Homo sapiens: one gene and its partners. The protein of the gene in region 3 purifies or fractionates together with the protein of the main gene of each other region. This does not show direct contact. Each region holds a gene or a part of one and is shown on either strand. Other genes may lie near its edges. The genes, in order: MFN1, MFN2, BAK1 and VDAC2.

The links.
Region 1: the proteins of BAK1 (region 3) and MFN1 purify together in Homo sapiens (co-immunoprecipitation; 2 studies listed by IntAct). This does not show direct contact.
Region 2: the proteins of BAK1 (region 3) and MFN2 purify together in Homo sapiens (co-immunoprecipitation; 2 studies listed by IntAct). This does not show direct contact.
Region 4: the proteins of BAK1 (region 3) and VDAC2 purify together in Homo sapiens (affinity purification with western blotting; 2 studies listed by BioGRID and IntAct, with this or other methods). This does not show direct contact.

What each region holds. Positions count from the first base shown.
Region 1 is NC_000003.12:179,350,687-179,357,725, reverse strand, and holds part of MFN1 (mitofusin-1), read right to left. Parts: intron 5,827-7,039; coding exon 5,691-5,826; intron 1-5,690. UniProt on the Homo sapiens protein: Mitochondrial outer membrane GTPase that mediates mitochondrial clustering and fusion. Membrane clustering requires GTPase activity. It may involve a major rearrangement of the coiled coil domains.
Region 2 is NC_000001.11:11,976,244-11,983,446, reverse strand, and holds the start of MFN2 (mitofusin-2), read right to left. Parts: upstream 3,004-7,203; 5' UTR 2,963-3,003; intron 1,638-2,962; exon of another isoform or gene 1,594-1,637; intron 1,478-1,593; 5' UTR 1,333-1,477; intron 925-1,332; exon of another isoform or gene 857-924; intron 1-856. UniProt on the Homo sapiens protein: Mitochondrial outer membrane GTPase that mediates mitochondrial clustering and fusion. Mitochondria are highly dynamic organelles, and their morphology is determined by the equilibrium between mitochondrial fusion and fission events.
Region 3 is NC_000006.12:33,572,052-33,577,276, reverse strand, and holds the end of BAK1 (bcl-2 homologous antagonist/killer), read left to right. Parts: intron 1-1,348; coding exon 1,349-1,484; intron 1,485-1,835; coding exon 1,836-1,979; intron 1,980-2,751; coding exon of another isoform or gene 2,752-2,962; exon of another isoform or gene 2,963-3,056; intron 3,057-3,062; coding exon 3,063-3,243; intron 3,244-3,369; coding exon 3,370-3,474; 3' UTR 3,475-4,725; downstream 4,726-5,225. UniProt on the Homo sapiens protein: Plays a role in the mitochondrial apoptotic process. Upon arrival of cell death signals, promotes mitochondrial outer membrane (MOM) permeabilization by oligomerizing to form pores within the MOM.
Region 4 is NC_000010.11:75,213,769-75,220,807, forward strand, and holds part of VDAC2 (non-selective voltage-gated ion channel VDAC2), read left to right. Parts: intron 1-252; coding exon 253-302; intron 303-4,119; exon of another isoform or gene 4,120-4,190; coding exon of another isoform or gene 4,191-4,223; intron 4,224-5,294; coding exon 5,295-5,447; intron 5,448-5,535; coding exon 5,536-5,588; intron 5,589-6,974; coding exon 6,975-7,039. UniProt on the Homo sapiens protein: Non-selective voltage-gated ion channel that mediates the transport of anions and cations through the mitochondrion outer membrane and plasma membrane.

The DNA of each region.
Region 1 (7,039 bases), on a different chromosome or scaffold from region 3:
AGTCATAGGAAAAAGGACACTTTTGATGGCTCTGAAATGCAAAGAACTCACACTCACTTCAGGGACTTGCTTTCCATTAAGTCAACCCAAGTCCCAGATATCACTGGGAGCCTTTTGGTTCACTGCAAAAGCATCCTATCTTTTCGGCATATGTTTTACCTCTTTCCTTTAGCATAAGAGGGAAAGAACTTTTCTTTATGTTATGGATATCATTCCCAACTCCCTTCCCAGGGAACCTTCTTGCCTTCATTAGCTCAACATTGGCTTCTATTGCCAATATACCACATCCTGCAAGGATGCCTAGGATCTCTCTTAAGATTTATCTTTCTGGACATTTCATGAAGCCTTGCAGTGATCCTCAAGAGTAGTTCTGAAACCATCCCCATAGGGTTAACAAGAATTACATGCCGGGGTCTGGACAGAAATATGGCTGTAGCTCATTAATAATCAGGCTGCACTTTGGCCCACTTCCTTGTTGCTAAATGTCATGTAACACCAGATACTGACCATTTGCACCCCCATTCTTTCTATAGACAGGAGCTCTGACATTAGAATCGTAACACTTTTAAGGATAGCTTAAGATGTTTTTTGGGCCCCCAGATCCAGCAACCAGTTTGAAGACCCCCCACAGAGGAATGATATGGATCAGCATGCGAATACAGCCTAGCCTTATTATCTCCCTGTCCCATGACTTCACTCTGCAAGTTGCAACCAATCAACGACCTCTACACTTTGGGTACTCCAAAAACCTTAAAAACCCTAACCTCAAATTCCTTGGGGAGATGGATTAAGGTTCCCCCCCATCTCCTCATTTGGTGACCCTACGATTAAACCTCTTCTCTGCTGCAACCTGGTGTCTCAGCATATCAACTTGCTGCATACATTGGGTGATGGACCTCCTATAGTTACAGTTTGGGTCCCTCCACCCCATATAAGAATCATCTGGGGAGCCCATTAATGATGCAGATTCCTCAAGTGAACTGTGAACCTAAAGAATCAAGACTCTGGGGATGCTCTTGGGATGATTCTTATGCATACTAAAGTGAGACACACTGTCACCCTGCCTTCCCAAAACGAACAAAAAAAACAACTGTGGAAATAGAAACTTTTTCTCCTCTACTATCAAAATCAACACAGAACACTTCATAACTAGATATATGGGGATTTTTCCACATGCATGAAGTGGTTCTCCAGCAAACACCAACTGGGTGTCCTATCATTCATTTCTACCTCTTCCCATCTTGGTTCAATGTCAGAATAGCTCACAGAACTCAGGGAAGCACTATACTTACATTTACTGGTTCATTATAAAGGATATTGTAAGTGACACAGATGAGATGCCTGAGCATTCATGCCCTCTCAGCATGCCACTCTCCCAGCGTAACCATGAGTTTAGTTACCTGGAAGTCCAATCATGTTCAAGAGTTTTCATAAAGCCTAATTTTCAGCCTGTCCTCCCCCACCCTTCCTGGAAATGGGTGGGTGGGAAGGAAAGTTCCAGTCCTCTAATCCCCTGATCACTTAACCTTTCAGGTGACTGGTCACCCTCTGAGGTTATCTAGGCACCCCACCCTAAACCACTCATTAGCATAAATTCAGTTGTCATTAAAAAGGGCTCATTATGAAAACAAGATACTCCAATCACTCAGGGAATTCCTATGGTTTTAGAAGCTCTGTGACAAGAATGGGACAAAGATCAAATATATTTCTTTTTATACCATACCAATGCTTTCTAATTTTCCTTTTACCTGGCTGGCATTTTTTTTTCTTGTTTGAGATGGAGTCTCCTTCTGTGGCCCAGGCTGGAGTGCAGTGGTGCGATGTAAGCTCACTGCAACCTGCACCTCCTGAGTTCAAGTGATTCTCCTGCCAAGGCCTCCCAAGTAGCTGGGATTACAGGAGTGCACCACCACACCCAGTTAATTTTTCTATTTTTGGTAGAGACAGGGATTCACCATGTTGGCCAGCCTGGTCTCAAACTCCTGACCTCAGGTGATCCACCTGCCTCGGCCTCCCAAAGTGCTGGGATTATAGGTGTGAGCCACCACGCCTGGCCCCTGGCTGGCATTTCCATGGATAGTCCCTCTTCCTCTCCCCAGTGCTGTCATTGTTTTTCATTACACACTCTCCCTGGATCATCTCATCAACTCCTGTGATCTCAATCACCAACATAAGCCAATAATTCCTAAATTTCCTAGAATTCTCCCTAGTCCAAGTCTCATATTTCCAACTGCCTTTTTGGTAACTATACTTGAATATATATAGTTGTATTAAACACACACAATTTCCTGCCTATACTACTGTCAGAGGTGTTTGAAGCAGAGCAACTCCATCTTGAACAGGGGCTGGTTAAAATGAGGATGAGACCTACTGGGCTGCATTCCCAGGAGATGAGGCATTTTAAGTCACAGAATGAGATAGGAGGTTGGCACAATATACAGGTCACAAAGACCTTGCTGATAAAAGAAGTGGCCAAATCCCACCAAAACCAAGATGGCGATGAAAGTGACCTCTGGTCGTCCTCACTGCTCATTGTAATATATATATTATATGTATATAATACATACAGTTTAGATGCCATGGCAACATCCAGAATGGATGCATATATGGGCTAAAAAGGGGAGGTACCAGCTGGGCACGGGGGCTCACACCTGTAATCCCAGCACTTTGGGAGGCCGAGGTGGGTGGATGGCCTGAGGTCAGGAGTTCGAGACCAGGCTGGCCAACATGGTGAAATCCCATCTCTACAAATAATACAAAAATTAGCTGGGTGTGGTGGTGCACTCCTGTAATCCCAGCTACTATAGGGAGGCTGAGGCAGGAGAATCGCTTGAAGCCGGGAGGCAGAGGTTGCAGTGAGCCAAGATCACGCCACTGCGCTCCAGCCTGGGTGACAAGAGTGAAATTCTGTCTCCCAAAAAAAGAAAAAGTGGGGGACAGGTACCAACCCTCAGTTCTGGGAATTGCCTACCCGTTACCTGGAAAACTCATGAATAATCCACCCTTTGTTTGGCATACAATCAAGAAATAACCATAAAAATACCAAAGCAGCAGTTCTCGGGACTGATCTGCCTATGCAGCAGCCATTCTTTATTCCTTTATTTTCTTAATAAACTTGCTTTCACTTTATGGACCCATCCGGAATTCCTTCTTGCGCAAGGTCCAAGAACCCTCTCTTGGGGTTAGGAGTGGGGCCCCTTTCTGGTAACATTATCACAACTGCCTCCTACCCCTGTTCTCATTCAATTCATTCTCCCCATTATATCTAAGGTTATAATTGTAACATCCAATCCTCTCAGGACTATTTTCCAAAATAAAAGAATGCAGAACGCCTTACCATGATATATTAATACAAGGTCTTTTACAATCTGACTTTTGCTTACAAAGTCTCTTCTTTTGCTATTGTTTCGTAACACCTTAAATTCAACTACTTGAGTTCTCCAAACACACTGTGGTCTCCCTACCCCTTTCTATTTATGGCTTTCTGCAAGAAATGAGCTTTTGGACCTTTTTCACATCCAAAGCTATACCTATTTCTCATTCTCAGTAGGACAGTTGAGTCATCACCTTCCCAGGAGGCTCTTCCTTCCTACTCCACCCTAATCTGAAGTAGGATCTTTTTAAATGGAGCTGTCTCATGCCAGACTCTGTGTAAGGCCCTGAGAATATGGTCAAATGGGAGAAGCAGAAAATAAAAACATAAAATAAGAGCTTTGTGAAAAGTGTTGAAAGACATTAAGAGGATGCTTTAACAGAAAATAACTGAGAAGGAATAATTTAGATAGGGTGGTCAGAGAAGGTGTCCAAGGTAGTAACATTTAGGATGAAATATGAAGAATGAGAAGGCACTAGACGTAGCTACAACAAGGAAAGGTGAGTTGTAGGCAAAGGGAATTGCAAGGGCAAAAGCCCTACGATGGGAAAATAGCTTAGAAGGCCTATGAAGTTATTTAGTAAATAAATGCCTCTGTTGGTACACAGCACAGATAGCTGAATAACCAGTTATGGAGCTAGTCATTTGTCTTTGCATATAAGCTGTGGCAGAGATCACCCTATCACTCTGGACTGTTACACCAATGTACGCCTCCTACTCTCCCTCTAGGAATGATGGAGTTGAAAATTTTGGAAGACGTACCTGATCACTGCCTTTTTCTCCCCGCCATAATCCAGATAATTGTCAAACTTAAGAAAGACACTAAAGAAAATCACCTCTAAATTAGCCAGGTACAGTGGCTCACGCCTGTAATCCCAGCACTTTGGGAGGCCGAGGTGAGTGGTTCACTTGAGGTCAGGAGTTTGAGACCAGCCTGGCCAACATGGTGAAACCCTATCTCTAATAAAAATATAAAAATTATGCTGGGGCCAGGCGCGGTGGCTCACGCCTGTAATCCCAGCACTTTGGGAGGTCGAGGTGGGCGGATTGCCTGGGCTCAGTAGTTCGAGACCAGCCTGGGCAACATGGTGAAACCCCATCTCTACTAAAATACAAAAAAAAAAAAAAAAAATTAGCCAGGTGTGGCAGCACACGCCTGTAGTCCCAGCTACTAGGGAGGCTGAGGCAGGAGAATTGCTTGAACCCGGGAGGCGGAGGTTGCAGTGAGCCGAGATGGTGCCACTGCACTCCAACCTGGCAACGGACTGAGACTCTGTCTCAAAAAAAAAAAAAAAAATTTAGGCTGGATGCGGTGGCTCACGCCTGTAATTCCAACACTTTGGGAGGCCAAGGCGGGTGGATCACCTGAGGTCAGGAGTTCAAGACTAGCCTGGCCAATATGGTGAAACCCCACCTCTACTAAAAATACAAAAATTAGCCAGGTATGGTGGCACACGCCTATAATTCCAGCTACTAGGGAGGCTGAGGCAGGAGAATCGCTTGAACCCGGGATGTGGAGGTTGCAGCGAGCCGAGATTGTGCCACTGCACTCCAGCGTGGGAGACAGAGTGAGACTCCCTCTCAGGGGGAAAAAAAAAATGCTGAGTTTACTTGGGAATCAAAAATAAAGATTATAATCTGGAATGCATGGAATGGCATACCAGTGCATTCAGTGAGGGTAAGAGGGGTTTCTATTAGCAAAAAGAGATTTACATAAGCTGCCTAGAAACAAGAGTTATTTGGTTCCAGAGGTTCAACGCCAGTTATTGTCAGTTCATTGGCGGAGATGCCATTACTGGGCAAGAACTCTCCTGAAAACATTTTATCTGAATTAAGGCAGTCCTAAAGTATGTTTATTGATAAGTCTTATCAAAGCAGGAGATTTGAAAGAATTTCTAGAAAGTCCTTGGAAATAGTTATCTCAGACAAGAGCCTCTTTCCTTCTAGGCCTGTCTAGGTATGACAAAAGTGATTTCATCCTAGCTTCTGAAACTTTCACATAATCAAGTAAACTTAAAAGAGTAAAACACAAAGTATGCTTATCATTTATCTATATTTCCATTCTTAAAACTGTCTACAAGCCAATTCTTAGAGATGAGAATCATTAAAAGGTAAAAATATGATTGACTTTCATAAAGCTTCATTTTATACCAGGAGGTAAAATGCACAAATTCTTTCACATGCTAACAGCTTTAACATTCAACACAGGCAGAAACTTGCGGGGCTGGGGGAGGATGGGAGAAATATTACTTGTTGAAACATCAGACACAAAGCTGATTCCTGGAAACTAATCTTAGAAGTAATAATAAATAATTACCTGCCAAAAAATGCCACCTTCATGTGTCTCCGAGATAGCACCTCACCAATGATGGAAAGCTTGTCTTTATATCCTTGCATTTCTACCAGATCATCTTCAGTGGCTATTCGATCAAGTTCCGGATTCTTATATGTTGCTGCAAAATTGAAATGGCATTAGAAAAGTGATATAAATGAATATTAAGTTAGTTATATAATGGAATACCTAAGATTGTATGTATTTTTGCTTTATGTTAACATGCCACCCACAGCATCTCAATGTTTGGTAAAAGGTGCATACTCCGTGGCAATGGGTCACAAGAATCCCGCCCAAAAGAATTTCAAGAATATTAAAAGTTGCAAGGGCACAGTCAAAAGTGGACTTCTAGGTCTCAAACATACAAGCTACCCTTGAGACAAGAATACATTTCTAAAGAGAGAAACTAGAACCTAACACTGACCTATTATTGTTCCAACCTGACTGAATGGATCTTCAGATCTTGAGCTCAGAAGGGGGAGCCACATACTGAGAGAAAAAAGTGAGGTTTGAATAGGAGCCCCTCAGAAATTAAGATACAGTGCAAGGTCTCCAAGCTAGGAAAGACCTTGCTACTTTACCACGTTCTATCTGCTTCCCCCAGGGATGAGGTGAAACAGCTCACTTAACACAAAGACAGAGAAGAAAGAGAATTACAGGTTGTATCCTATCTACAGCCATACCACCCTGAATGCACTCGATCTCATCAGATTGTATCCCACTTTCACTCTTATCAGGTTTAGGGTTTAACCGCACATCCCAGCCCTCACCTCTCCTCCATGGCTGGAGGTAGTTGAAAAAGCCTGGGTTTGAAAAATAGAAAAATCTTTCAGTTTTTTTTATAACTCAGGAATAGGAGATAACCTGATGTTTACATTCTTATCACCTCTTTTTGAAGGTAAAGACATGAAGATTCATGTGGGCGTGGGGGCTCACGCCTATAATCCTAGCACTTTGGGAGGCCGAAGTGGGCAGATCCCTTGAGGTCAGGAGTTCATGACCAGCCTGAACAATATGGTAAAACACCATCTCTACTAAAAGTACAAAAATTAGCTGGAAATCACTTGAATCCGGAGGCAGAGTTTGCAGTGAGCCGAGATGGTGCCACTGCACTCCAACCTGGGTGACAGAGTGAGACATCGTCTCAAAAAAACAAAAACAAAAACAAAAAGATTCATCTGGCTATCTGAATGACCCTAATTAGAGACAAACACTGCCACTTAAAACTTCTCCAGTGCACATCCAATTAAGCTTCTCATATCTCACCATACTTTTCTAACGCATTAATAAAATATGTGCAATTTGGTGAATAACGGACAGACTGGTTTAAGTAT
Region 2 (7,203 bases), on a different chromosome or scaffold from region 3:
AGAACTCGACTTGCACCCAATATCCCATGTAAAGAAGGTTCAATAGTAGAATCAGTTTGTAAAACACCATATGCTAGGCCAGGCGCGGTGGCTCACGCCTGTAATCCCAGCACTCTGGGAGGCCGAGGTGGGTAGATCACAAGGTCAGGAGTTCGAGACCATCCTGGCTAACACGGTGAAACCCCATCTCTACTAAAACTACAAAAAATTAGCCAGGCATGGCAGCATGCACCTGTAGTACAGCTACTCGGGAGGCTGAGGCAGGAGGATAGTGTGAACCTGGGAGGCAGAGCTTGCAGTGAGCCAAGATCACGCCACTGCAAGATCGCGCCACTGCACTCCAGCCTGGGTGACAGAGCAAGACTCTGTCTCAAAAAAAACAAAAAACAAACAAACAAACAAAAAACACCATATGCTACCATTTTCCTCAGTGGAGCACGTGAGCACAGCAAAAGAGTTTGGGAAGGAAGCCTTGTTGTAAAGACACTAGTTTAACTGTGTTGAATTCAGCATTTCACAAATATAATCAATGAAAAAACCCTTCTGTGTAATAGCTTTTAAAATCCCGAGGATCACACTTTAGGGAAAAGCCCACTCTTTCTGGTACTCTCCTGCCCCTACCCCTAAAAAGTGCCAGGGCACAGTATTAATAAATATTAACCTAAGACCAGAAATGAACCCAGTTCTAAATGGAAACTGCTATTAGCCCTCCAAGGTGGTCAACAGCTTTGCCTCAACCTAGGCTATTCGTTGAGGAGTATTAGGTATCTTGGGTGTAGAGACAGCAGTAGCAAAATTCACTGCAAGGTGTGTTTGGATCCCAAGCACAGTCCCTGAATCCACACCACCTCCTTACCCAGTGTTATGTACAGCAACTCCTAGCAGGGAAAATAAAATGGATCCACGGATCGTCTGCTGGCACAACTGGAAAAGAGGAGAAGCTGAGAAATCGAAACAAAAAGAGTATACAGGGTAAAGGGGACAGAGCAGAGTCTTAAAAGAGCAGTGACAAGGAGCCAACCTGTGCTGGGCCGAGATGGGGAAGAGCCAGCACAGCAGAGACCAAATGAGGGAGACAGAGACTAACTCTTCAGGGAGCCCAAGAGATCCCAGCCACTTCTGAACTGTCAACTTTTAAACAGGCTCTCTAAGCAACCAGCGAAATCCTTCACGGAAGTAAAAGATACGGTAGTTTTTCAACACAAGTTAGAAAGCTGTGGCTCTATACAAAGAGGATGCCATTCAAGAGACTTGCCACCAGAGGTCCAGGAGAGCACACCCCTGTCCACTCAGCTCAAATCCAGGGTGCCAGAAGTCACAGCTACTACTTACTTTTTTGGATGGTGAGAGATCTTCACAGGGTAGGCATCATGGACATGGCTGAAGTCCAAAAGACAAAAAGATTCTGAGTTCTCTTCTGTCCTGTCTCAGGTTGAGGTTGGCTATTGATTGACTGTGTTGACTCCACCAGTCCTGACTTATTAGAAAAGAAAAGGGAGATGGATCCGGTGTCCAAAAAAAAAAAACACTGGTGTACAAAACATGTCTAATCAGGTTTCAAGCCAAACAAACTCATCCCTGAGGGAAGCTTACTCATTGAGGTATTGGGGAGTTGCGCTGGCATGTGAGGAAGTGCCCTGGGGAAAAAAACGCAGAGGTGTGGGACCAATCCTGACTGTGCACACGTATTCCGCCATGTGCGGGTTTGAGGCACCACGGAGGTCCCTGCAGGAGCCCTGGGAAAGGTACATCCAGAGAGGGGAGAAGAGGACAGAGCAAAACTAGGAACAAAACTGGGCTTGAGGACTGTGGAACAGCTGACTATTGAGGAACAGAAGAACTGACTGAAAGCCAATGTGTTCAGCTACTGTAAAGTATCTCACTTAATTCTCTATTCTGTGGGACAGAGGGCTGGAATACTTGAAGATTTGTCTAAGCTGGGATCTGAAATATTAGCTCCCTTTGACTCCAAAGCTCCTGGAGTGCAGCAGCGCGATCTCGGCTCAACCTCCGCCTCCCGGGTTCAAGCGATTCTCCTGCCTCAGCCTCCTGAGTAGATGGGATTACAGGCGTGTGCCAGCAAGCCCGGCTAGTTTTTGGTTTTAGCACAGACGGGGTTTCACCATGTTGGCCAGGCTGGTCTCCAACTCCTGACCTCAGGTGATCCGCCCGCCTCAGCCTCCCAAAGTGCTGGGATTACAGGTGTGATCCACTGCGACCGGCCTCCTTCCTTTTTTAACTACATTGAGCTGCCTTCCTCCCCCAAGCCCCAAACCTTGGGACACCAGAGGCGGATAACCAGAGCCCTTTTCTGGGTAGAAAAGAGATAACCAGAGCCCTTTTCTGGGTAGAAGAGAGAGAGATGATTGAGAATTTAAAGAGGGCAATGAAGGATTACGAGAGGGGGTAACGGGCAGTTCTGCCTTCGTGCGTCTTAACAGCTATTTATTCAACATTTTCTGTGTGCCTTCTCTGTGTGTGTCAGGCGCCACGTTAGAAATGGATAAGAAACAGTCCTGCCCTCCAGGGCCTTACAGTCCGGTGAGAAGTCATATAAGTAAACAGGGCTGAACGAGAAGGCAGTAACTGCCCAAAGTGGGGATGGCAGGGCGCTCCCGCGGTGAACGTGGACACCTATCAGGTGCTGAGTAAATGCTGGCAAAATGAAGACAGGATGAAAAATAGAGAAGGGGCAGGGGTAGAACATGGCCGTGAAGGGTGGAAAGGCGGGGGCGATGAGAAGCTACAGGGGACCCCACCGACCAGTCCCAGGTCCCGTGGCCCGCCCCCTCCTCTCAGGGCCGGGGAGGGCCCGGCGGCGAGGCCGGAGAGTGGGGACCCCGCTTGACTGCATCCCAGACCCCCGTGGCCCCAGAATCCCGTCGGCCCACGCCGAGCTGCTCAGGACTCGCCGGGCCGGGCCGGGCCAGTCCCCGCCACCCCGGCTTGCTCGCCCTCTCACCTTCACCTTCCCGGCCTCGCGGCGGCCATCACACTCACTACGTCACCAGCGAGCGCCACCCCAGGGGGAGGCGGGAGGAGGGAAGTGGATAAGCGCGTCACCAGTCGCCTCAGATTGCCCCTCGACCCGGGTGAGCTGGTGGACCCTGAGCCCAGCCGGCTCGCCCCGCCTACTCCTTACGCCTCTGCTGCCCCGCGACTCGGCGCTTCGAGCGGCGTCTCAGCGCGCCACTCCTCCGCGCGCCACTCCTCCGCCGGCGCGTCCCAAGCGGACGACGCAGAGGCTCGGACTCCCACTGCATCATGGGGGCTGTAGTTCCGGTGGGCGTCGGCCGGAGCTGGGGGGGCGGGGCAAAGCGGGGCGGAGCCTCAAGCTGTCAAGGGGCGAAAAACCAAGGGCGTGGAGTAGAGGTTCCCGCTTTTTCGCCGGTTGTCCTAGAGCCTGACCCTGGGGCCTCTGCCAGCTCTGGAATCCAGATTTGCATTCTGTAATCTTAGAGGAGTGTTCTCTAGAGGGCCAGGCCTAGGGTGAAGTGACTCATCGGGCAGACAGAAGCGAGCATGGGCCTGCTGCCCTTCAGTCGCCTTTGAGGAAAGAAGAGCAGCAACAACGGCGAATCAATGCCAGTGACTGAACTGCGTCTCTAACATCCACCGCTGTATTTAACGTCCACAGCAGTCCCAGGAGAGGGAGAGGAGAGGTTACCCAAGCTCACATGGTTACCCAGATCACCGGGCCCCAGTGATGCGGCAGACACTACTAGGAAACCGCAGCAAACAGATCCCTTGCAGGACTTGGCCTCCGCAGAGAAGGCTCCAAGCCTGAGCGCGCCAGAACAGTAGGCACTAGCCACGTGTGGCTCTCGAGTCCTGAGCCAGTGCAAACGGAGATGCGCTATAAGACTTAGGACAAAAAAGGCTGTTAAACTATCTCAATTTTTAGGAAAAAAAAATATCGACCGGGCGCGGTGGCTCAAGCCTGTAATTCCAGCATTTTAGGAGGGCGAGGCGGGTGCATCGGGAGTTCAAGACCAGCCTGGCCAACATGGTGAAACCCCGTCTGTACTAAAAATACAAAAATTAGCCAGGCATGATAGTGCACTCGGGAGGAAGAGGCAGGAGAATCGCTTGAACACGGGCGGTGGAGGTTGCAGTGAGCCGAGATCATGCCACTGCACTCCAGCCTGGGCAACAGAGACTCCGTCTCAAAAAAGAAAAAAAAAATCTATCTTTGAGCCAGAGTCTCACTCTCACTCAAGCTGGAGTGCAGTGGTGCAATCACGGCTCACTGCAGCCTCGAACTCCTGGGCTCAAGTAATCCTCCCACCTCACTCAGCCTCCCAAGTAGCTGACCACAGATGCTGCAGCCATGCCTAGTATTTATCTTTTGTAGACATGGGGAAGCATTTCACTTTGTTACCCAGGCTGGTGTCCTGAACTCCTGGACTCCTGGAGTCAAGCAATCTTCTCCTGCCTCGGCTTCCCAAAATGCCGGGTTACAGGTACCTGCCACAGTGCAGGGCTATTAGCCCATTACTATTTATATGCTGACTACATGTTGAAGTGATAATATTTTGGGTCATTTGGGTTAAATACATTACTAAGATTAATTGCACCTGTTTCTTTTTAAAAATGTCGCTACTAGAAAATTTAAAATTACATAAGTAGCTTGCATTTGTGGGTCAAACTGTAATTCTGTGGGATGGTGCTGCTCTATAACCATGGTAGAACAACCTCAATTTATTGCCACAAACAACCTCAAGAGGCAAATCAGTACTCTGATATAGAAGTGACTGGTTTATCAGTCTCATGACGATGGCCAAAGGGAGCTGTCCTGCCCACACTGCCCTCTGAGTAGCCTAGTGCCCCGCGGGTCTGACTGTGGACTGTGGGGCCACACGCAGACTCAGCCTCAGGGTGTAGACAGGGCCCTGTCTGGGATGTAGCGTGCCTTGGGGCCTCAGCTGCTAGCTGCCTGGTACTGGGTCGGATTGTTTCCTCCTCCACAATCTCTGGACTCCCTAAGGAGAGGAACTCTAAATTCCACTTCCATTCTCTGAGGGCAGGAACTATAAATTCCATTTCCTCTTTTTTTTTTTTTTTCTTTTTTTTTGAGAAAGAGTCTCGCTCTCACTCTGTTGCCCAGACTGGAGCTCAGTGGCACCATCTTGGCTCACCGCAACCTCCGCCTCAGGCAATTCTCCCGCCTCAGTCTCCCCACTAGCTGGGATTACAGGCGTGCACCACCATGCCTGGCTAATTTTTGTATTTTTAGTAGAGATGGGGTTTCACCATGTTGGCCAGGCTGGTCTCAAACTCCTGACCTCAGGTGATCCACCCGCCTCAGCCTCCCAAAGTGCTGGGATTACAGGTGTGAGCCACCACGCCCAGCCTTCCTTTTCCTTTTTAGCAGAATCTTGCCCGTCAGGTGAAAGCCTGGATGTTCTCTCTCCTAAACATCTCCCCTGCCCACTCCCTCCTCTTCCCTAAATTTCCCTGCAAGCATTGGTCTAGGTCCTGGTCACTTGCCTGGACTGCTGTAGGAACCTCTGAATCCATTCCCAGGCATTTAGTCTTGTACTCTGCCCAGCAGCTGGGCTTTATCTCTGAAACACATCTGCATACTTGCCCAGCAAGTAGAGGAAATCTCAGTTTGGAGATATGTTTCAACCCATTAACATGTGTTTCTCATTGAGATGGCTGAATCCTCGTTTCAACCCTCGGGATGACAAAACTCTCCTAGCAGTGCTGAGTGTTATTGGGAATGGGTGCAGAGCACACTGATGTACAACTCCAGGAGACCTTTCTTTCTTACGTTTTTGTTTTTTTTTTTAAGACAAGAGTCTTGCTCTCTCACCCAGGCTGGAGTGCAGTGGCACAATCTCAACTCACTACAACCTCTGCCTCCCGGGTTCAAGCGATTCTCGTGCTGCAGCCTCCTGAGTAGTTGGGTTTACAGGCATGTGCCATAAAGCCCACCTTATTTTTGTATTTTTAATAGAGACAGGGTTTTGCCATGTTGGCCATGCTGGTTGAGAATTCCTGGCCTCAAGTGATCCTACCACCTCAGCCTCCCAAAGCGCTGGGATTACAGGCATGAGCCACTGCACCCGGTCCATATTACTTTTTGTTGTTGTTGTTGTTGACAGGTTATTGCTCTGTCACCCACGCTGGAGTGTAGTGGTGCAATCTTGGCTCACTGCAACCTCCACCTCCCAGGTTCAAGTGATTCTCCCAGCTCAGCCTCCCAAGTAGCTGGGATTACAGGCACCTGCCACCACACCTGGCTAATTTTTGTATTTTTTTGTAGAGATGGGGGTTTTGCCATGTTGGCCAGGCTGGTCTCAAACTCTTGACCACAAGTGATCCACCCGCCTCAGCCTCCCAAAGTACTGGGATTACAGATGTGAGCCACAGCATCCGGCCCCCCATGTTACCTATTTTGTTTGACTTTTTCATGGTGAAGATGAGTTTGTAATCAGAAAAAAGTTAACAGTTAAAAACAACCCTATGCCGGGCACAGTGGCTCACACCTGTAATGCCAGCACTTTGGGAGGCCGAGGCAGGTGGATCATCTGAGGTCAGGAGTTGGAGACCACCGTGGCCAACATGGTGAAACCTCATATCTACTAAAAATACAAAAACTAGCTGGGCGTGGTGGCGGGTGCCTGTAATCCCAGCTACTCGGGAAGCTGAGGCACGAGAATTGCTTGAACCCGGGAGGCAGAGGTTGCAGTGAGCCGAGATCATGCCATTGCACTCCAGCCTGGGCGACAGAGTGAGACTCCATCTCAAAAACAAAAACAAAAATAACCCTAACATACACAAACACACACACAGGCTTGTGTCGGCACAAACCAGCTCAAGAACGTTCAAAAAACAGATTAGACATGGTGGCTTTCAGAGAGAGGAACTGAGCAGCTGGGGGGAAAGGATGACAGAAAGATTAAGATTTGTGCTGTTTGAATTTACAATGAGTCAATTTTGAAAATGAAAAGACTAAAAAATCTTTTTTTTTTTTTAATTGAGATGGAGTCTTGCTCTGTCACCCAGACTGGAGTGCAGTGGCCCAATCTTGGCTCATTGCAACCTCCACCACCTGGGTTCAAGCGATTCTCCTGCCTCAGCCTCCCGAGTAGCTGGGATTACAGGCGCATGCCAACACAACCGGCTGATTTTTTCATATTATTAGTAGAGACAGGGTTTCGCCACGTTGCCCAGGCTGGTCTCAAACTCCTGACC
Region 3 (5,225 bases):
AGAGGGCTGGGTCACGGGCGAGGGAGGCAGGAATTAGAGTGGGGCCTGGCTGCTGTATCCCTCCAGCGGGAGAAATAAGGAAGTAAGCTGGCCAATCACCCAGTCAGGTCTGCTCAACAGGGAACGCAATTATTGTGACTTGGGGAGGAAGTAAGATGGCTGCCCTCCTTCCCTCTTCCCAGGGGATAGCCAGGGAAGCCCCAGCTCACACCTCACGGCGGGCTGTTCCCTGGACTTGGGAATCAGGTCCCAGGTCTGTCACTATCTCCCTGTGTGACTTTTCTGGGCCGCAGCTACAAATTCAGATTTTGTTTCCCACATTTCCCTGCACGCAAAGGGCTGCGGAGCTGAGATGTACTAATGTAGACTCAGGACCCCAAATGCCCGGGACTGTCCCGGTTCCCCGGCTTGTTCTGGCTGTATGACCTTGCACACGTTACTCAGACACCCTGTGCCATTTTCCCCCTGCCAGCTGGGGATTGCCTGCTCCCAGGGCTACTGTGAGGACTCAATGCAAGTGCCGGAACAACTCTCCACACAGCATAAGCTCTAGGGGCGGCTAAGGTGCTGAAGTAGGGATATTTCTTTTCTTTTTTTTTTTTTTGTTTTTTTTGTTGTTGTTGTTTTGTTTTGTTTTGTTTTTTGAGATGGAGTCTCGCTCTATTGCCCAGGCTGGAGTGCAGTGGCGTGATCTAGGCTCACTGCAAGCTCCAACTCCCGGGTTCACGCCATTCTCCTGCCTCAGCCTCCCGAGTAGCTGGGACTACAGGCGCCTCCCACCACGCCTGGCTAATTTTTTGTATTTTGTTTAGTAGAGACGGGGTTTCACCATGTTAGCCAGGATGGTCTCAATCTCCTGACCTCGTGATCCGCCCGCCTTGGCCTCCCAAAGTGCTGGGATTACAGGCATGAGCCACCACACCCGGCCATTTTTTTTTTTTTTTTGAGACAGAGTTTCGCTCTTGTTGCCTAGGCTGGAGTGCAGTGGCACGATCTCCGCTCACCGCAACCTCCGCCTCCCGGGGTCAAGTAATTCTCCTGCCTCAGCCTCTTCTTGAGTAGGTGGGATTACAGGCATGTGCCACCACACCCGGCTAATTTTGTATTTTTAGTAGAGACAGAGTTTCTCCATGTTGGTCAGGCTGGTCTTGAACTCCCGACCTCAGGTGATCTGCCCACCTCGGCCTCCCAAAGTGCTGGGATTATAGGCGTGAGCCACCGCACCTGGTTGGGATATTTCTTTCCATGGGTGAGGACAGCTATGGCCTTAGGAAGAGTGAATCCCCTATAAGGCATGGGGCTGCCAGGGTTCGGCCCTCTCTCCCTGACTCCCAGCTTTGATCCTCAGAGGAGCAGGTAGCCCAGGACACAGAGGAGGTTTTCCGCAGCTACGTTTTTTACCGCCATCAGCAGGAACAGGAGGCTGAAGGGGTGGCTGCCCCTGCCGACCCAGAGATGGTCACCTTACCTCTGCAACCTAGCAGGTGAGCTACAACCGCTGGGCCCACAAGGACATCTTCAGGGAGGCAGTAGCTCGCATGGGTCTCTGTGCAGGTCCTGGGAGCTGGGGAGGCCTCGGGGGTCTTGCCCTTCTCTCATGGTTGCTCCTCTTTTATGTTGGGCTCCCACCCCCATCCAGGACCTTGTATCCTTTTTAGCCCATGCCTGCCCCTTCTCCTGGAGCCCAGCACTCATGTCTTAGAACACTGTCAGGGACCTCCAAGAAGGGATGCACAGGGCCATGGACAGCTCAGGCAGAACCCCTCTGCCATGAGCCAGGGCCTGGTCCCGACTGCCTGGTTACTGGCTCACCTGCATGCCTCCTGCTCCTACAGCACCATGGGGCAGGTGGGACGGCAGCTCGCCATCATCGGGGACGACATCAACCGACGCTATGACTCAGAGTTCCAGACCATGTTGCAGCACCTGCAGCCCACGGCAGAGAATGCCTATGAGTACTTCACCAAGATTGCCACCAGGTACCCCAGCCACCTCCCTGCCAGCTCCAGTCACTCCTCTGTCATGTCACAACCATACCATACCCTGCCTGCATGATGCTCTCCTGGCATGGGGAGAAGCCTTCTGTCAGTGTCCAATGTCTGCTGTGAACTCACATGTGGTCTCGGCCCCCTATTTTTCTCTTTCGGGGTCCCAGACTTGTATTTTGGGCATTAGCTCACAGCTCTTTTGAGCTCTGACTCCAAGGTCTTGACTGGTTAGATCAGGACTCTAGAGGGGGCCTGAGGTGGGGACGTCCCCCACAGCTCCCCAGCCCAGCTGGGACATAGCTGTCCTTCATAGTTCCAATTTGAAACCACATATCACACTGAAGATGGTGAGGGTGCTAACCTCTGCCAGGTCCTAGAAATGGCTCCTACTTGCTATAATCTGGCATCCAAGTGGTTAAAGACACCGAATATTTGGGTGCAAATCCAAGCTTTGCCACTTACTGCCTTCGTGAAGCTTCCTAGCCCTTAGTCTCCTGGTTTGTAAAATAGGGAAAATATGCTTAGATTAGTGTCCACCTTACAAAGTGTTAGCCATTGCTACCACCAGAGTTAGGGAAGTCAGTGTCGGAGTAGATTTGAAACTGGAGGTGAAGGTAGGAGTAAGTGATAGATTTTAGAATTAGTGCTCAGAGCTGAAATATCCAGTCCGTGAACTTAGAGGCCAGCCTTCATACCACTGTGATGACAGGAACTACCCTAATCTTTTCTGTCCTTTTCTCTCTGCTGTCCCTCGGGCTGCCAGGCCAGCAGCAACACCCACAGGTAATCTCCCCGCTGACTCCATCCACTTGCTCTGCCCTCTGCCCTCTCTGTGCCCCGTTGCACCTGAGCGTACACCCCAGCAGTGGCATCCAGCTCATCTGCCCCTGAGCTTTCTCCTTTCGCAGAGACCCAGGTTGTTCCCAAATACAGGCCAGGTTGGGGCAGCCTCTGCGGCCTTAATTCACAGCTAAGCTATTTAGCTTCCAGCTGGGAGAGGGGTGGGAGAGGCCAGGCAGGCTGAAGGGCTTCCTGGGGGCTCTCCACCAATGCTATGGGATGCTCTGCCCACAGCCTGTTTGAGAGTGGCATCAATTGGGGCCGTGTGGTGGCTCTTCTGGGCTTCGGCTACCGTCTGGCCCTACACGTCTACCAGCATGGCCTGACTGGCTTCCTAGGCCAGGTGACCCGCTTCGTGGTCGACTTCATGCTGCATCACTGCATTGCCCGGTGGATTGCACAGAGGGGTGGCTGGGTGAGTATCCAAGGACTGCAATGTCCTCCCTGCTGTTGGGGCTGCCCCTCTCCCAGGCCCCACCCCTTCCTCGGGTTCCTATATCTTCTGCTAGCCTCTCTGTGACCACCTTGTTTCTCCCGGCAGGTGGCAGCCCTGAACTTGGGCAATGGTCCCATCCTGAACGTGCTGGTGGTTCTGGGTGTGGTTCTGTTGGGCCAGTTTGTGGTACGAAGATTCTTCAAATCATGACTCCCAAGGGTGCCCTTTGGGGTCCCGGTTCAGACCCCTGCCTGGACTTAAGCGAAGTCTTTGCCTTCTCTGTTCCCTTGCAGGGGTCCCCCCTCAAGAGTACAGAAGCTTTAGCAAGTGTGCACTCCAGCTTCGGAGGGCCCCTGCGTGGGGGCCAGTCAGGCTGCAGAGGCACCTCAACATTGCATGGTGCTAGTGGGCCCTCTCTCTGGGCCCAGGGGCTGTGGCCGTCTCCTCCCTCAGCTCTCTGGGACCTCCTTAGCCCTGTCTGCTAGGCGCTGGGGAGACTGATAACTTGGGGAGGCAAGAGACTGGGAGCCACTTCTCCCCAGAAAGTGTTTAACGGTTTTAGCTTTTTATAATACCCTTGTGAGAGCCCATTCCCACCATTCTACCTGAGGCCAGGACGTCTGGGGTGTGGGGATTGGTGGGTCTATGTTCCCCAGGATTCAGCTATTCTGGAAGATCAGCACCCTAAGAGATGGGACTAGGACCTGAGCCTGGTCCTGGCCGTCCCTAAGCATGTGTCCCAGGAGCAGGACCTACTAGGAGAGGGGGGCCAAGGTCCTGCTCAACTCTACCCCTGCTCCCATTCCTCCCTCCGGCCATACTGCCTTTGCAGTTGGACTCTCAGGGATTCTGGGCTTGGGGTGTGGGGTGGGGTGGAGTCGCAGACCAGAGCTGTCTGAACTCACGTGTCAGAAGCCTCCAAGCCTGCCTCCCAAGGTCCTCTCAGTTCTCTCCCTTCCTCTCTCCTTATAGACACTTGCTCCCAACCCATTCACTACAGGTGAAGGCTCTCACCCCCATCCCTGGGGGCCTTGGGTGAGTGGCCTGCTAAGGCTCCTCCTTGCCCAGACTACAGGGCTTAGGACTTGGTTTGTTATATCAGGGAAAAGGAGTAGGGAGTTCATCTGGAGGGTTCTAAGTGGGAGAAGGACTATCAACACCACTAGGAATCCCAGAGGTGGGATCCTCCCTCATGGCTCTGGCACAGTGTAATCCAGGGGTGTAGATGGGGGAACTGTGAATACTTGAACTCTGTTCCCCCACCCTCCATGCTCCTCACCTGTCTAGGTCTCCTCAGGGTGGGGGGTGACAGTGCCTTCTCTATTGGGCACAGCCTAGGGTCTTGGGGGTCAGGGGGGAGAAGTTCTTGATTCAGCCAAATGCAGGGAGGGGAGGCAGATGGAGCCCATAGGCCACCCCCTATCCTCTGAGTGTTTGGAAATAAACTGTGCAATCCCCTCACCCTGACTTAGTTTTTGTATTCTCTGCTACCCCTCTTTCCATCAGGCCAGACTGTGGGAACCTGGGCACGCCTGGCATACATCTGGCTTATTACTGAATAAAACCTCACACTAGGCCTCTAGAATCCCATAGAGGCCTGAGTATGGTTCTGCAGCCCCCACTCCGATGGAAGGCGTTCGCCCCTCCCCATGAACTTCTCTCATCTCGTTGGGTTTCATGCAGTTTCCACCCTTTAGGAAGTCTGGGAGGTCCTTTAGCTACAGAGCTGGTGGAGCAGCTGCACATATCTGAGGACCCCCACAGGCTACCTCTGACCTGGGCTGAATTCTTCTCCCACCCTGGGGCTACCACCCACGCTGGTCCAAAAGGCCCTTCTCCCCCACATTTAGCTCTGCCTGGGACACAATGTCCCAGCTCCCCCTTCCTGATGTCTCCACAGTCAGCACACACGCAGGGCTTTCATTCTAGTTTTATGCTGCTTGGGAGTCCCTATGGGTACC
Region 4 (7,039 bases), on a different chromosome or scaffold from region 3:
AATTTGAAAGCATTCTTTTGTGTACCAACTACCAAAAACTAGACAAAGCAGCATAGGGATAATTCTGCCCTTTATAAGCCAGTTTACAAAAGACGAATTTGTAACAATTTCATTTAAATATTGTATATTAACACATTTTTATCCACCTCTGAATATGTGGAATCTTTTTGTTTTTTATGTATAGTCAACAATTGCTATGCATCTTTCATACAAAGGAATCATTTTGTTTCTTTTGCTGTCTATTTGTTGAAGGTTTTGGGTTGGTGAAACTGGATGTGAAAACAAAGTCTTGCAGTGGCGTGGTGAGTGTTACTGTTGAATAAGTTCTATTGAACCTTTATAATTTTTCAACTTGTAAAATGGTCATAACTGAAAGATGTCTACCTGTTTTGTCTTAAAGAAGAGGCAGAAGTTAACTTTGTTTTAAGAGATTTGCGTGTAACCTGATTTATTTTGGCCTTGAATGTGATTTCTGATTTTCATGTGGTCTTTCGTCATATTATGTATGCACAAGGAACTTAGGAAAGACCAGTCAGGTGGTACTCTTTACTCGTAAGATTACACATTTGAAGGCAGGGAACCCATTATTAGACTTTTTTGTAACCCTTTGTCAACAATGCTCGTCAGAGTTATGGGCATAAAAATATCAGGAACTCATTAATTTGAGTGTACTAATCATTTATATAATGTCCATTTTCTAGCAGTTCTCCCTGGAGAAGATTTCCACATGTATTTTATGAGTTTAGGGAGTCCTGATCTGAATTTTTTTTTTTTGAGACGGAGTCTCACTGTGTCACTTAGACTGGAGTGCAATGGTGTGATTGTGGCTCACTGCAACCTCCGCCTCCTGAGTTCAGGTGATTCTCTTGCCTCAGCCTCTCTAGTAGCTGGAATTACAGGTGCCTGCCACCACGCCTGACTGATTTTTGTATTTTTAGTAGAGCTGGGGTTTCACCATGTTGGCCAGGCTGGTCTCCAACTCCTGACCTCAGGTGATCCACCCACCTTGGCCTCCCAGAGTGCTGGGATTACAGGTGTGAGTCACCATGCCCAGCCAAGAATATTTTTAAAGAGGTTAATATTTTGGTATTTGGGTGTCTTGATAGTTCAATGAACTGTTTACAAAGGGGATAAACTAATATTTAACTTTTTTCGAGACAGGGTCTCACTCGGTTGCCCAGGCTGGAGTGCAGTGAGTGCAGTGGCACAATCTCAGCTCACTGCAGCCTCGACCTCTTGGGCTCAAGCAATCTTCCCACCTCAGCCTCCCAAGCATCTGGGAGTACAGGCCGTATCCATCATGCCTGAGTATTTTTTGTAGTTTTTCTAGAGATGACGTTTTGCCATGTTGCCCAGGCTAGTCTTGAACTCCTGAGCTCAAGTGATCCACTTGCCTTGGCCTCCCAAAGTGCTGGGATTACAGATGTGAGCCACCATGCCCAGCTAGTAAAATTTAACTTTGTGAAATTTTTTTTACTTAAAAAATTTTTGTTTTGAGATTATTTTAGGGGTGGGTGTGTGTGCACATTAGAATACTATAGGTTATTTTGATATATGTATGTATGTATATATATAGAGAGAGAGAGACTTTTTTTTTTTTTGAGACGGAGTCTTGCACTGTCACCCAGGCTGGAGTGCAGTGGCATGATCTCAGCTCACTGCAAGCTCCACCTCCCAGGTTCATGCCTTTCTCCTGCCTCAGCCTCATGAGTAGCTGAAACTACAGACACGGGCCACCACGCCCAGCTAATTTTTTTGTATTTTTAGTAGAGATGGGGTTTCACCATGTTAGCCAGGATGGTCTCAATCTCCTGACCTCATGATCTGCCCACCTCGGGCTCCCAAAGTGCTGGGATTACAGGCGTGAGCCACCGCGCCCGGCCTATATAGACATTTTTGATGTAGTGCATGTAACTGATATTTATTTAATCGTATTGTAGTTTTTTTGTTTTGTTTTTTTTTTTTTCCTCTGAGACGCAGTCTTGCTCTGTCGCCCAGGCTGGAGTGCAGTGGCATGATCTCAGCTCACTGCATCCTCCACCTCCCAGGTTCAAGTGATTCTCCGGCCTCAGCCTCCCAAGTAGCTGGGATTACAGGTGCTTGCCACCATGCCCCGCTAATTTTTGTATTTTTAGTAGAAACAGGGTTTTGCCATGTTGGCCAGTCTGGTCTTAAACTCCTGACCTCAAGTGATCCCAAAGTGTTGGGATTACAGGCGTGAGCCACAGCGCTAGCCCTGTAGTTTAAAAGCCTAGGCCTGTTGGATTTCTGGGGATTTACATTGATCATATCTGTCGCTTGGTTTTTTTGGTCTGAAAGGAAGCTTAGGTGTTTAGTTATGATTGGATGACTTATTTGGCCAAGTTAACAGGTTACAGAGCAGTGATTTTTAGTGTTTTTTAATGTTCCCATTGTTAGTCTATTGAGGCCCCTAGTGTATTTGTTGAAACACAAAAGGCCTTCTAAAAAAGATTCAGTCCTTGTGTTTAAAAAGCTTACTTTCTAGTTGGAGAGACAAAATAAACTGAGAGTACTGAGGTAATTAATATCAAATATTAGATCGTTGGATAATCAAATCTTTGTTGGAAAGGAATAGATTGTTGTGTATAGGGTTAGGGAAAGTTTTATGGAAGTAGGTTTAAGAGCATGAAGGATATGTAGGAGCTGGATTAGATATAGCATGTTTTTATTCACATTTAATACATGTAACTCAACAACCATGGTATTGATCCTATAGTATGTCTCTGGCCCCAGATAAGTCCCATTAATACCTGGCTCTGTTTTCTTACCTGAACAGCAAAGCTACTGAAGCCACCCCAGAATGTAGAAGCCAAAATTTCTGGTGGTAAAGGGTATGAGCTGTAATCTGGCCCAACTCTGGTCCCACAGGGTGGTGTTGGCTTTGTTTCTTGAGGCTTCCTTGGCATGTGTATATAGGCTGGCTCTTGATCTGTGGGCTGATGAATGGCCGTAGGTGGGGCCCCAAGAGTCATTAATGTCATTCAGGATTAAAAATAGCTACTCACACATTCCCCATTCAAACTGCTAGAAAAACCTGTTCCATATATATTGTTTTAGTAATGCTTTCCTTTTCTGTGGAGCATATGAAAACGTACAAACTTTCACAGTGTCAGTTCAATTTAATCATTCGGAGGTAGGCTTTGTAATTATAGTTGCAGAAACAGACCCAAAAAAGTTAAGTGAGGCTGGTCACAGTGGCTCATTCCTGTAATCCCAGCGCTTTGGGAGGCCAAGGCAGGAGGATCCCTTGAGCCCAGGAGTTCTGAGACTCACCTGGGCAACATAGTGAGACCCCGTCTCTACAAAAAAATTTAAAAATTAGCTGTGCTTGTTGGTGGGTACCTGAAGTCCCAGCTACTTGGGAGGCTGAGATAGGAGGATCGCTTGAGCCCAGGAGTTTGAGGCTGCAGTGAGCTATGACTGTGGCACTGTACTCCAACCTGGGCGACAGAGTGAGACCCTGTCTCCAAAAAAAACCGCAAAATGTTGTGTCCTGCTCAGTGTGATGCATTTAGTAAATGACACGAAGAACTGGACATCAGAACTCCTAATTTTTATATCTAGTGTTTCCTAACATGATCCAGTGCTTTTTTGTTTAATTGGAAATGGAGTCTCACTCACTCCATCACTCAAGCTAGAGTGCAGTGGTGCCATCTTGGCTCACTGCAACCTCAGGTTCTCAGGTTCAAGTGATTTTCCTGCCTCAGACTCCTGAGTAGCTGGGATTACAGGGATGCACCACCATGCCCGGCTAATTTTTGTATGTTTAGTAGAGACGGGGTTTCACCATGTTGGCTAGGCTGGTCTCAAACTCCCTACCTCAAGTGATCGGCCCGCCTTGGCCTCCTGAAGTGCTGGGATTACAGGTGTGACCCACCACACCCAGCCAGTCCAGTGCTTTTTAGTATAGGTATTGAGGGCTATGCTTTGACTTGAAATTCCTGTTAATGAAAGGGTCTAATTTAGGAGAGTGATGTAAGACCTAAGGATTTGTCTCTAACAGCAGAGCAATAGTTATACAAATGTTCTATTTTCTGAGAGAAGGTTGACTGGCCTTTCCTCCTATTGATACAATTTTTGATATTTCTCACTCTACAGATATCACAATTTCTGGCTGTAGTCTCTTTATTATTTTCACATCAGCTGTCTTCCTTAGGCTTGGCGTGGTGATGCTTGTGATCCCAGCTACTCAGGAGGCTGAGGTACGTGGATCACTTGAGCCTGGGAGGTTGAGGCTGCAGTCAGCTGTGATCACATCATTGTGTTCCAGCTTGGGTGACAGAGGCAAGATGCTGTCTCAAAAAAAAAAAAAAAATTCAGATAAGCCCTCCGTATTTTTTCTTTTTCAGTTCGTGTGCAACCAGGGATTGGCACATTATTATTTTTAGACAGGGTCTCACTGTGTCACCCATGCTGAGTGCAGTGGTGGGATTATGGCTCACTGCAGCCTGGACCTCCCAGGCTCAAGCAGTCCTCCCACCTCTGCCTCCTGAGTAGCTGGGACTACAGGCGCACACCACCACGCTGAGCTGGTTTCTTAATTTTTGTAGAGACATGGTCTTGCTATGTTGCCCAGGCTGGTATCTAAGTGCTGGGATCACAGGCATGAGCCACCACACTCAGTCCCCCATTGATTTTTGAATCCCAAATAAAATCACCTTAGCAAAACCTTCCTTAAAAGATGTACAGTTAGCTGGGGTGGTGGCTTACGTTTGTAATCCCAACACTTTGGGAGGCCGAGGTGGGTGGATCACCTGAGGTCAGGAGTTGGAGACCAGCCTGACCAACATGGTGAAACTCCATCTGTACTAAAAATACAAAAATCAGCTGGGTGTGGTGGCGGGCACCTGTAATCCCAGCTACTTGGAAGGCTGAGGCAGGAGAATCACTTGAACCTGGAAGGCGGAGGTTGCAGTATGCCGAGATCACGCCACTGCACTCCAGCCTGGCGATAGAGCGGGACTCTGTCTCAAAAAAAAAAAAAGGTGTACAGTTTGTTCACTTGAGAATTCACTACAGGTTAACTTGTGATTGATTGGAAGTGTCAGCTGTGTATGTAAAGTGGCAGTCAGTTGCTCAAAGGCTTATTTGTCACTCTTATATATGCTTAGAGAGTAGCACAGTGCAGAAGGATACGAGTGTTTAGGAAGCTAGAAAAAGGATTCATGAATTTACCAAATGTTTCAGGGGGTTTGTGTGTGTGTGCGTGTGTAAGGCAGTGATGAATTCTAGGCTTATGAGAATGTTCATGAAGTTATTGATTGTCTTGTTAGGAATTTTCAACGTCCGGTTCATCTAATACAGACACTGGTAAAGTTACTGGGACCTTGGAGACCAAATACAAGTGGTGTGAGTATGGTCTGACTTTCACAGAAAAGTGGAACACTGATAACACTCTGGGAACAGAAATCGCAATTGAAGACCAGGTAACATTTTGAAAATTTTAGTATTAATTTTATTAATTTATTTTTGTATTTCAAAAAAAGAAAACAAATTACTTTTCTTTCAAAATAGATTTGTCAAGGTTTGAAACTGACATTTGATACTACCTTCTCACCAAACACAGGGTAAGCACAGACATTTTTATCTGTATTACATTTAAAAGTATTTCTCTTTTGTATATTTAGAAAAGGTGTACATTTACTGTTTGATAGCTTATTAAGCTACCTTGTGGTGGTGAAATCTCTGTATCTGCTTTTATTTATTTATTTGAGATGGAGTCTTTGCTGTGTCACCCAGGCTGGAGTGCAGTGGCATCATCTTGGCTCACTGCAGTCTCAGCTTCCTGGGTTCAAGCGATTCTTCTGCCTCTGCCTCCCTGAGTAGCTGGGACTACAGGTGCGTGCCACCACGCCCAGCTAATTTTTGTATTTTTAGTAGAGGCGGGGTTTCGCCATGTTGGCCAGGCTGTCCTGGAACTCCTGACCTCAGGTGATCTGCCCACCTTGGCCTCCCAGAGTGGTGGGATTACAGGCATGAGCCACCACGCCCAGCCTTTTTTTTTTTTTCCATATTTTATTTTATTGTATTTATTTTATTTTATTTTATTTTCATTTGGGACAGAGTCTTACTCTGTCACACAGGCTGGAGTGCAGTGGCGCGATCTCGGCTCACTGCAACCTCTGCCTCCCGGGTTTAAGTGATTCTCCTGCCTCAGCCTCCTGAGTAGCTGGGATCACAGGCATGTGCCACCACGCCCACCTAATTTTTGTATTTTTGGTAGAGACAGGGTTTCACCGTGTTGATCAGGCTGGTCTTGAACTCCTGACCTCGTGATCTGCCCACCTCAGCCTCCCAAAGTGCTGGGATTACAGGTGTGAGCCACCGCTCGCAGCCTGTTTGTTTATTCTCTGTCACCCAGGCTGGAGTGCAATGGTGCGATCTTGGCTCACTGCAACCTCTGCCTCCTGGGTTGAAGCGATTCTCCTGCCTCAGCCTCCTGAGTAGCTGGGATTACAGGCATATGCCACCGTGCCTGGCTAAATTTTTTTGTATTTTTAGTAGAGACGGGATTTCACCATGCTGGCCAGGCTGATCTTAAACTCCTGACCTCAGGTGATCCGCCCGCCTCAGCCTCCCAAAGTGCTGAGATTACAGGCGGGAGCCACCATGCCTGGCCCATATCTGCTTTTAGAATACTATGGTTGCTATCATTGGCTTGCCTTCAAATATTTGCCTCTTTGTTGTTGCACTAACTTGGGCAACTAATGTGTTTCTAACAGGCTTTTGTGACTGATTGTTTGTTCTGCAAAGCAGTTTTCCTAGATGGCTGTCCAGTTGCTTCATGTGTCCTTGTCTTGTAGTTCATTGAGCTGACTTTTTTACTCCCTGTTATTGTATTGCTGATTTTTACTCCCTGGTCATACTGCAGTTTATTTAAGTCTGTTTTGTGCTCTCTTGTGCAGAAGTGTGTGTAAATTTTTCCCAATGACATCAGTTTGTTCTTTTTCCAGAAAGAAAAGTGGTAAAATCAAGTCTTCTTACAAGAGGGAGTGTATAAACCTTGGTTGTGATGTTG